2 linked regions of the Homo sapiens genome follow. The protein of the gene in region 1 purifies or fractionates together with the protein of each later gene. This does not show direct contact. Each region holds a gene or a part of one and is shown on either strand. Other genes may lie near its edges.

What was found.
Region 2: the proteins of PARP6 (region 1) and ANKMY2 fractionate together in Homo sapiens (co-fractionation; one large-scale study listed by BioGRID). This does not show direct contact.

What each region holds. Positions count from the first base shown.
Region 1 is NC_000015.10:72,258,840-72,262,662, reverse strand, and holds part of PARP6 (protein mono-ADP-ribosyltransferase PARP6), read left to right. Parts: intron 1-955; coding exon 956-1,105; intron 1,106-1,974; coding exon 1,975-2,185; intron 2,186-3,001; coding exon 3,002-3,055; intron 3,056-3,823. UniProt on the Homo sapiens protein: Mono-ADP-ribosyltransferase that mediates mono-ADP-ribosylation of target proteins.
Region 2 is NC_000007.14:16,611,230-16,615,052, reverse strand, and holds part of ANKMY2 (ankyrin repeat and MYND domain-containing protein 2), read left to right. Parts: intron 1-1,780; exon of another isoform or gene 1,781-1,914; intron 1,915-3,823. UniProt on the Homo sapiens protein: May be involved in the trafficking of signaling proteins to the cilia.

The sequences.
Region 1 (3,823 bases):
GTGGTGAAGGTAGGAACCAGAATACAGAAAGTTTGGAGGTGAGTGGTTGGCAACAACATAGAAACAATGAGTATGGGTTGAGAAATTTGTATGGGGATGGGAAGGCAACAGGGAGAGGTTAACTAGACTAAGGTGCAGAAAGTTGACATCTTTTGTTGACTTTGGGAAAGGAACTGACAGGAAAGGGGAATGATTGACACATCATGGTCCCTAAAAAGGCAATCAAAGGATTGATCTTAGGTAGAAGGGTCACCTTACCTCCAGAGAATGGAGGGATCAAGGTAGGGTGGAAATGTAAGTAGATTTTATAGTAGGGTTGGAAAATTAAGGGAACTGATACCTGATGGCTTAAGAAGGAAGAGAGGTTTTTGGTTGTAGATGAAGTTAGTAACTTAAAGAAGGTAATAAGGATTTAGAACAATACCTTAGAGTAATGCTAGAGAGAACTGATCAAGGACAAGTGAAAGGATTGACAAATCTAGCTAAGGGCGCAGCTCAAATTGGAAACCATAAATTTGAGAATATAATTTTTCTCCTAACAATGTCAGTACCCCTTATGTCCCTACTCCCTTTCTTCATGACTCACAAGGAACAAAGTGGTACTCACCTCCATCCTACCACTTCTGTTTCCCTGTCAACAGTATAGTCATTCTTGGCAATAGATTTCAAAGTTTGCAGCCTTTGAAGGCTCACCTTTGAAATCTCACTCTAAAGGCAACGCATCTCTGAATTTTTCTGGCCATTAGGCTAGGTGCCCTCTAGGGTGAAGGGGTGCTCTGGGATGGTGATTTTTTTATTTACTAAGGTCATTTAAAGGGGTCTTCAGATACACATTCCCCTACCACAACTAGCTTTGCAGTCCTTGGGTCTGAATTTTAGATTATTTGTCTCTCTTTAGTCCTTATTTCTTGACCCTGCCTCATCTTGCCTAAGCTCATTCTTTTTGATCCCTCAGGATCCTGGGTATGTTTACATCCCAACAATGGAAACATCTGAGCAATGATTTCTTGAAGACCCAGCAGGAGAAGAGGCACAGTTGGTTCAAGGCAAGTGGTACCATCAAGAAGTTCCGAGCTGGCCTCAGCATCTTTTCACCCATCCCCAAGTAAGTGCTCCCTAAAGCTGATCATCTGTAAACACCTTGTGATAGCCCCCACCCCCACCTTCTTGATTACATAAATGTTTCTATCCCCTCTCTTCCCTGAATTCTGTCTCTTTAACTACTGACACCACTCACATGGTCCTGTTCCCTATGTGTCCTTACCTTTCTACTCCTTATCCAAGGTTAATACCTAATCCTTTATGTAAAACAGAATACCTAGCTCGTGATATGTATTTGGAGAAATGTATGCTGAATCTTCCATCTTTCTGTTCTTTTGTCCTGATCCGTTTCCCCATCCTAAGAAGAAAGTGTCAGAGAACAGGCAGTAATTCCTTGCTAGGTTCTGGAAATAAATATTGCTCCATTCTTTGACCCCAGGTCTACATTTTCCCCCTGTGGTGTCTTCTGATATTCCCAAAGGCAGACACAAACCCAGATTTGTAGCTTCCCAGGAATCATTGTTGACAGTCAGATAGTCAATATTACGCCCTTTGGGATGCAACTACTTCTTGCCTAGCGCAGTGTTTAACAATCTCTCTCTCTATTTTTTTTTCTCTCTCTCAGAAAAACAGGCAGCCTTTCCAAGGGATTATTCCATACTTGGCTTAGAAACATAATAACCTATCCTCTGCCTCTGCCCACCCTCAGTGTCCCAATGTGAAGAACCCACAGATGATGACATAAAAATTTTAATTCAGATGTGTGATCTACTTGTTTTAATAGTGTTTAAGATACAATGCAACTTTCCTCAGATATGAGTTTGTCTTTCTTTAGTTTAGAACTTTTGGCTTAGGGCTCACTTATCTCCAGTCCCCTCCAGGGATCCTATGAAATCCCCAGTTTTATCACTTCTCTTTGCTCTCTCTCTGCAGGTCTCCCAGTTTCCCTATCATACAGGACTCCATGCTGAAAGGCAAACTAGGTGTACCAGAGCTTCGGGTTGGGCGCCTCATGAACCGTTCCATCTCCTGTACCATGAAGAACCCCAAAGTGGAAGTGTTTGGCTACCCTCCCAGCCCCCAGGCAGGTCTCCTGTGCCCTCAGCACGTGGGCCTCCCTCCCCCAGCACGGACCTCTCCTTTGGTACATGGGCTGGGGAGGGTTTGACTTGGCTATCAGGAGGGTGGGAGTGGAACTGTGGGAGTGTAGTTTCTCAAAATGGGGTGGGGATATGGTTGTCTAGGCATCATAAATCAAACCTAGGTATGTACCATGAGTGAGTAGAATGGAACACTTCTTTTTTTTTGAGACAGGGTCTCACTCTGTCATCCAGGCTGGAGGGCAGTGGCGATCTCTGCTCATTGCAGTTGCTGCCTCCCAGGCTCATGATCCTCCTACCTCAGCCTGTCAAGTAGCTGGGACTATAGGCACATGCCACGACTGGCTAATTTTTCATATTTTTGTAGAGACGGGCTTTTGCCATGTTGGCCAGGGTAGTCTTGAACTCCTGAGCTCAAGTGATCCGCCTTCCTTCACCTCCCAAAGTGCTGGGATTACAGGCACGAGCCACCACTCCCAGCTGGAAAACATTTTTTAACAGTAGAAAACTTATGTCTAAATTGTCTAGCGAGCTTCTCTGATAGGCCATGAAGCACAGAGTCTGGAGATGGGAATCTCAAGGAGAAGTCATGTATGATTTTATTAGTTTGTGAGTAGGACTGTAGTTAACTGTAGCTGCTGTACTAACCTATTCCATCTACTTTGAAGGAGGGTTAAGGACAGGTGAGCCCCTTTCCAGAACCTTTGGCAAAAATGTCTAAAAGTCTCCTTTCTAGCTTCGGGATTCTGAGCTAGGGTTTAGCTGCTTTAGGAGAGTCCTAGGTGATAGGCAAGAGTCAGGTCTGTCTAGGCCCCAGCTTCATAGGAGGTTCACGGGGTCTGTCTTTTTACTCTCACCAGGTCAGTGGTCACTGCAAGAACATTCCCACTCTGGAGTATGGATTCCTCGTTCAGGTAATCAAGTCAAAATTGTCACTCCGAAGCCCTTCCCTGTTGTCTGACCCATTTGGTCTCCTAACACCTCCCAGCTCCTCAATCAAATACTTTCTGAATTGCTTTGCTTCCAGAACTAATGGTAGAAGGAAAGAAGGCATTGTTCCCATCTTCAAGAAACTGACAGCATTACTAGAAAGACAATACTTACCACTTATGATCAAGTGCCAATGAGGCACCGCCAATTTTAAGTGTATGAGTGTCGAGACTCATATGACATGAGATGAGAATGAGATTGACACTAATTTCCTTAATGATTCCCAATAGCCCTTGCTCAAATGATCTTTAGTATTCTTCACAGACCCCCTTTCACTGCTCAGCTACTACTGGTCATTTGCTTTTTAAAATCTCTTTATTCCCTGGGCATGCTTTCACTTTTGCATCTCTGTTAACCTTTGTTCATGTAATTCTTCCTATCTTCCTCTTGCTATCAAGAGTCAGATGGCACCTTTTCCATAAAATTGCCATTACTCCAATGCATTAACTAGATGTGATGTCTCCCCTCACTGAACTGTTACGATTTGTTTTTGTTTCATATGGCACCTGTGTGTCACATACTATGGGCTGCCTTGAATTGTTATTAATTTATAAACATGCCACATCTCTCCTATTGAAGTTCAGCTTCTGAGAAAACAACCTTTAATTTTATTTCATAATCAAGAAGACCTTTCACAGAGCTGGGTACATAATGGGCATTCAGTAAATCTGCATTAAATGAATAAAGTCTCT
Region 2 (3,823 bases), on another chromosome or scaffold:
GAGCTATTCTGAAATATTTCACTGCTATTGTCTTCCAGATTTTAAAAATACAGGCTTTTGCTGTTGTTGTTTACACATAATTTTTTCAAAAAAATCCAGCTAAACAAGTATAATTTCCTCAATAATCATCACAGAAAACTACACAGCTACATGTGTGCTACAGTGATGAGGTCCTATTTCAATTTCAGTATCTATCACATGCTTTTACTCATAAAGATTTGATAGTAGTTCAGAGCTGTTTAAGTGAGCAAGATACTAAGTTGTGTCAAAAGTTAAGGTTCTTCCTTAACATAAGGCGTTACTATCATGTAGTAAAATAGATTTCCCCAGAAGTTTATTACGAAAGAAGAATCTGTGGAGTCTGCTGAGCATCATGAAAATGAGTGGACAGTTCTTATAAGGTGACTCTTCTGAAGACTGACACTCACTCAAAGATATAAGATCCAAAATGTGTATAATCTTATTACTTTGTTGATGCATCCCTGTGCATCTTTCTTGAGTACTTGAAGGTTGAGAAACAAACCAAATTTACTCATTGTGTGTTCCTCCACCCAAATTAATTTTCTAGGCCCTTAAGAGAGATGACAAACTAGTAGATACCTTTCCCATCAGACAGAAGAGTGGAATCTGCTATTTTTATTTTAGAAAACTCAGAGTTTTTCTTAATATTCTGGAAGAACTGCCAGAGGCAACACTTGTGATACTAAGTGGGCAAATTCAGTTGTGAACTGCATACTCATGTTTCTAGTGGAGATTACAGAGGGCTTAGAATTTAACCTTTAAAAAATATGTATTTTCTTCTGTGTTACTGTTTCTCTCCCTCCCAGCATACCTAGGGAAAAGAGAACTCCCAAGAGAAGCATTGACCTCTGTCCATGGCACTCTCTCAGGCATGGGCTGGCTGGGATGGGGAGACAGGTTTCTGTCAGGGTACAGTATTTCTCAATGTAGAGAATGTGTGTGGTTCTGTAAGACTCTTGTTCCTCCACTGCCTGAGCAATACAGGATATTCTGGCTTAGACTGACTTGAAGAAGTTCCCTGTACTTTTCTGATTCACTGTCTTTCATATCTATGTTTCTGCCTCTTCAGATTGCAGTAAGGGTTTGTGGAATTTTTTTTTTTTTTTTTTTTGAGATAGGGTCTTGCTCTGTCGCCCAGCCTGGAGTGCAGTGGTACAGATCTCGGCCTTCCAGGTTAAAGCGATTCTCCTGCCTCAGCCTCCTGAGTAGCTGGGATTACAGGTGCCCACCACCACGCCTGGCTAATTTTTGTATTTTGGGTAGAGATGGGGTTTCTCCATGTTGGCCAGGCTTATGGAATAATTTTTTATGTTTACTTGGAACCCAGTCTTTCAGGGTTAAATGTCCTAATAATTATTAATACTCTACCTTCAGTTATCTTTGAAGGTATATATTTTAAGTAAATTAGATTGAGGGCATAATTATGCAGACAATAATTTGTAAAGGTATATAGTCTGAAATAGACTACATAATATTTTTTGGAGTATGAAGGGGGCTATCCTATTATATACCTTCCTCCAGACCAGACCTTGCTTTTTGTAGGTATAAACAATCTATTCGCTCGAAACCTTTTCTTTTATCCACCCTTGGGATCTAAAAGCCACCCAGTTGCTTTTGTTACTGTGGCCCATTTTTATTGCTCTACCCCCTTTTTAAGCTAGCATGGCATTTCCTATGGAGTATTATTTAAAAACTAATAACCACTGTGTAATGTTAAACAGCTTTTAAAACAACCTCGGAAATTCTCCCCAATACACACCTCACTTTTCATTACAGTGCACCTAATATAGCTGTATTTGTGTCTAGATTAAGTGGCTGCCGTAGCAATAAGGATGCATTTGTTTTCAAAAGGGATTTGGAGGATTGTGCTGATGCCCAGAATATGAAGGTTATCTAGGAGAAAAACAAAATCACAGAAAAAAATGTCAGCAGAGCAGGGTCTCTAAGTGTACAGGAGGCAGATGTGCACAGAACAATCATGTCTTTGATTATTGTGATTTTCAAGCCCAGTATTGTAGATTTAGCAGTTTTTAAAAATAGGATTTAAAAAATAAAAAGAATTCAAAATGCCACTACATAAACATATTCTCAGGTAGCAATCCTTTGAATGGTAAAAATTTATCTAGTTTTTAATGCCAATAGAAATATATTTATTTGCTCCTCCTCATTAATTAATAAAAAGGATTTCCTTTATAATATATTACTTCATAATGCTGCAGAGATTAAGGAAGGAAACAAGTACAAATATTATTCTTTTGTGTGCAGCTATGTAGTTGTTTCAATAAGCGCATGTTAATGATGTGGTTATTTGTCATTTTTCTTGGTGTATATTTGTGCTGTGTATTAAAACATAGATAAGGTCTGATGTCTCCAAACAAAAAATTATTAATCTGGGCTCTGTTTGAAATTTTTTGAAAGAATTCTCACTTGTAAGTTTAAGATTCTATAGTTGATTATAAATGCCATATATAAAAATACTGATCAAACAACTTTAAATGATTACAATTAGCAGAAGTATAAACAGATAATTAATGAGTCTTTTCTTCTCCACCATAAATTGTCAAAGTATGTTTTGGTAGAGAGAGTTATCAATAAGGATTCTGATTATACTTACTTCATTAAGTCTAATAACTTATTATTAAGTGCTGGATTTTTGTAAAACACTAGATTGTGTATAAATCTAATAAATGTCAAAAAGTGAAATTCGTTTAATTTTACAAGGACATTTAATCTGTGTTAAATTTCTAATTAGAGGGCTAGCTATGGGCTTTACTAATAGATGATCTTTTTTCATGCCTAAAGAAAAGAATCTAATTCAGGAAATCTACCTGTTGTTCCCTGACATGTATAGTCCCTGGGATATTGATTTAGCTGTAACAGGTAGGTTAGCAAGTACTGACTGGCTGTCTGCTCTGTGCATACAGTTGTGTCCCTGTTACATTTGTTGTGGTCTTTGTGCTCCTTAGTTCAGCTAGATCCAAGTTCTTGTCTTACAACCAGGAAGAATTAGACAGGTGGACACTGGAGAGTGAGTGGAGTAAAATTTATTAAGTGAAAGGAAAGCTCTCAGCAAATAGGAGACGCAGTGCAGGGTGGTTCCCCTACCCAAAGGCGGGAAAGTGCCCCATGTGCCTGGGTCCAGGTCCTTTTATGGACTCAGAAAGGGGAGTGCATGCTGATTGGTTTGTGAGTATGTAAAAAAGGTTAAAGTGAAGACACCACTCAATGGTGGGCACAACAGTGTAGAAAACCAGTTAGGAAAGGGTAGGTGTATGTAAAATAGGTGAAGGGTGGGGATCAATCAGAAGAAATTGAGTCAAACAGGAAGACAAGTTCTCAATCCGGTTCAAGGATTTAATTTGTAGCTTGGCTTTCAGGCTTTAAACTGTCTTTGGCTTGGAAGTGGGGCTTCACCAAGGACCCACCCCTATTCTCTCTAGGCATTTGGCTGCCTCCTGCCACTCTCACATTCATGTTTACATTACTGTTATGCCACCATGGATATTTACAGCAGTCCTTTGCAGACCTACTTCAAATAATCTACCCTACAACAAAGCTAATACAAAAATACTCCATATTACACTAAATTTGAGCATAATCTGTGCATACATAGGAAATGTGGGACTCATAACGTGTAAGATTTGATCATTCTAATATTTCCCCTTTAAAGTTATTTATGGCTTCCTCTTTGACCTGTTCTCATTACTGTAGATGATTGGAAGCATCTTCAGGAAAATTTCCATAGAGAAATATAGTTAATTGGAAAGTAAAGCATATTTCATTTTTAGACTTCATTCTGAAA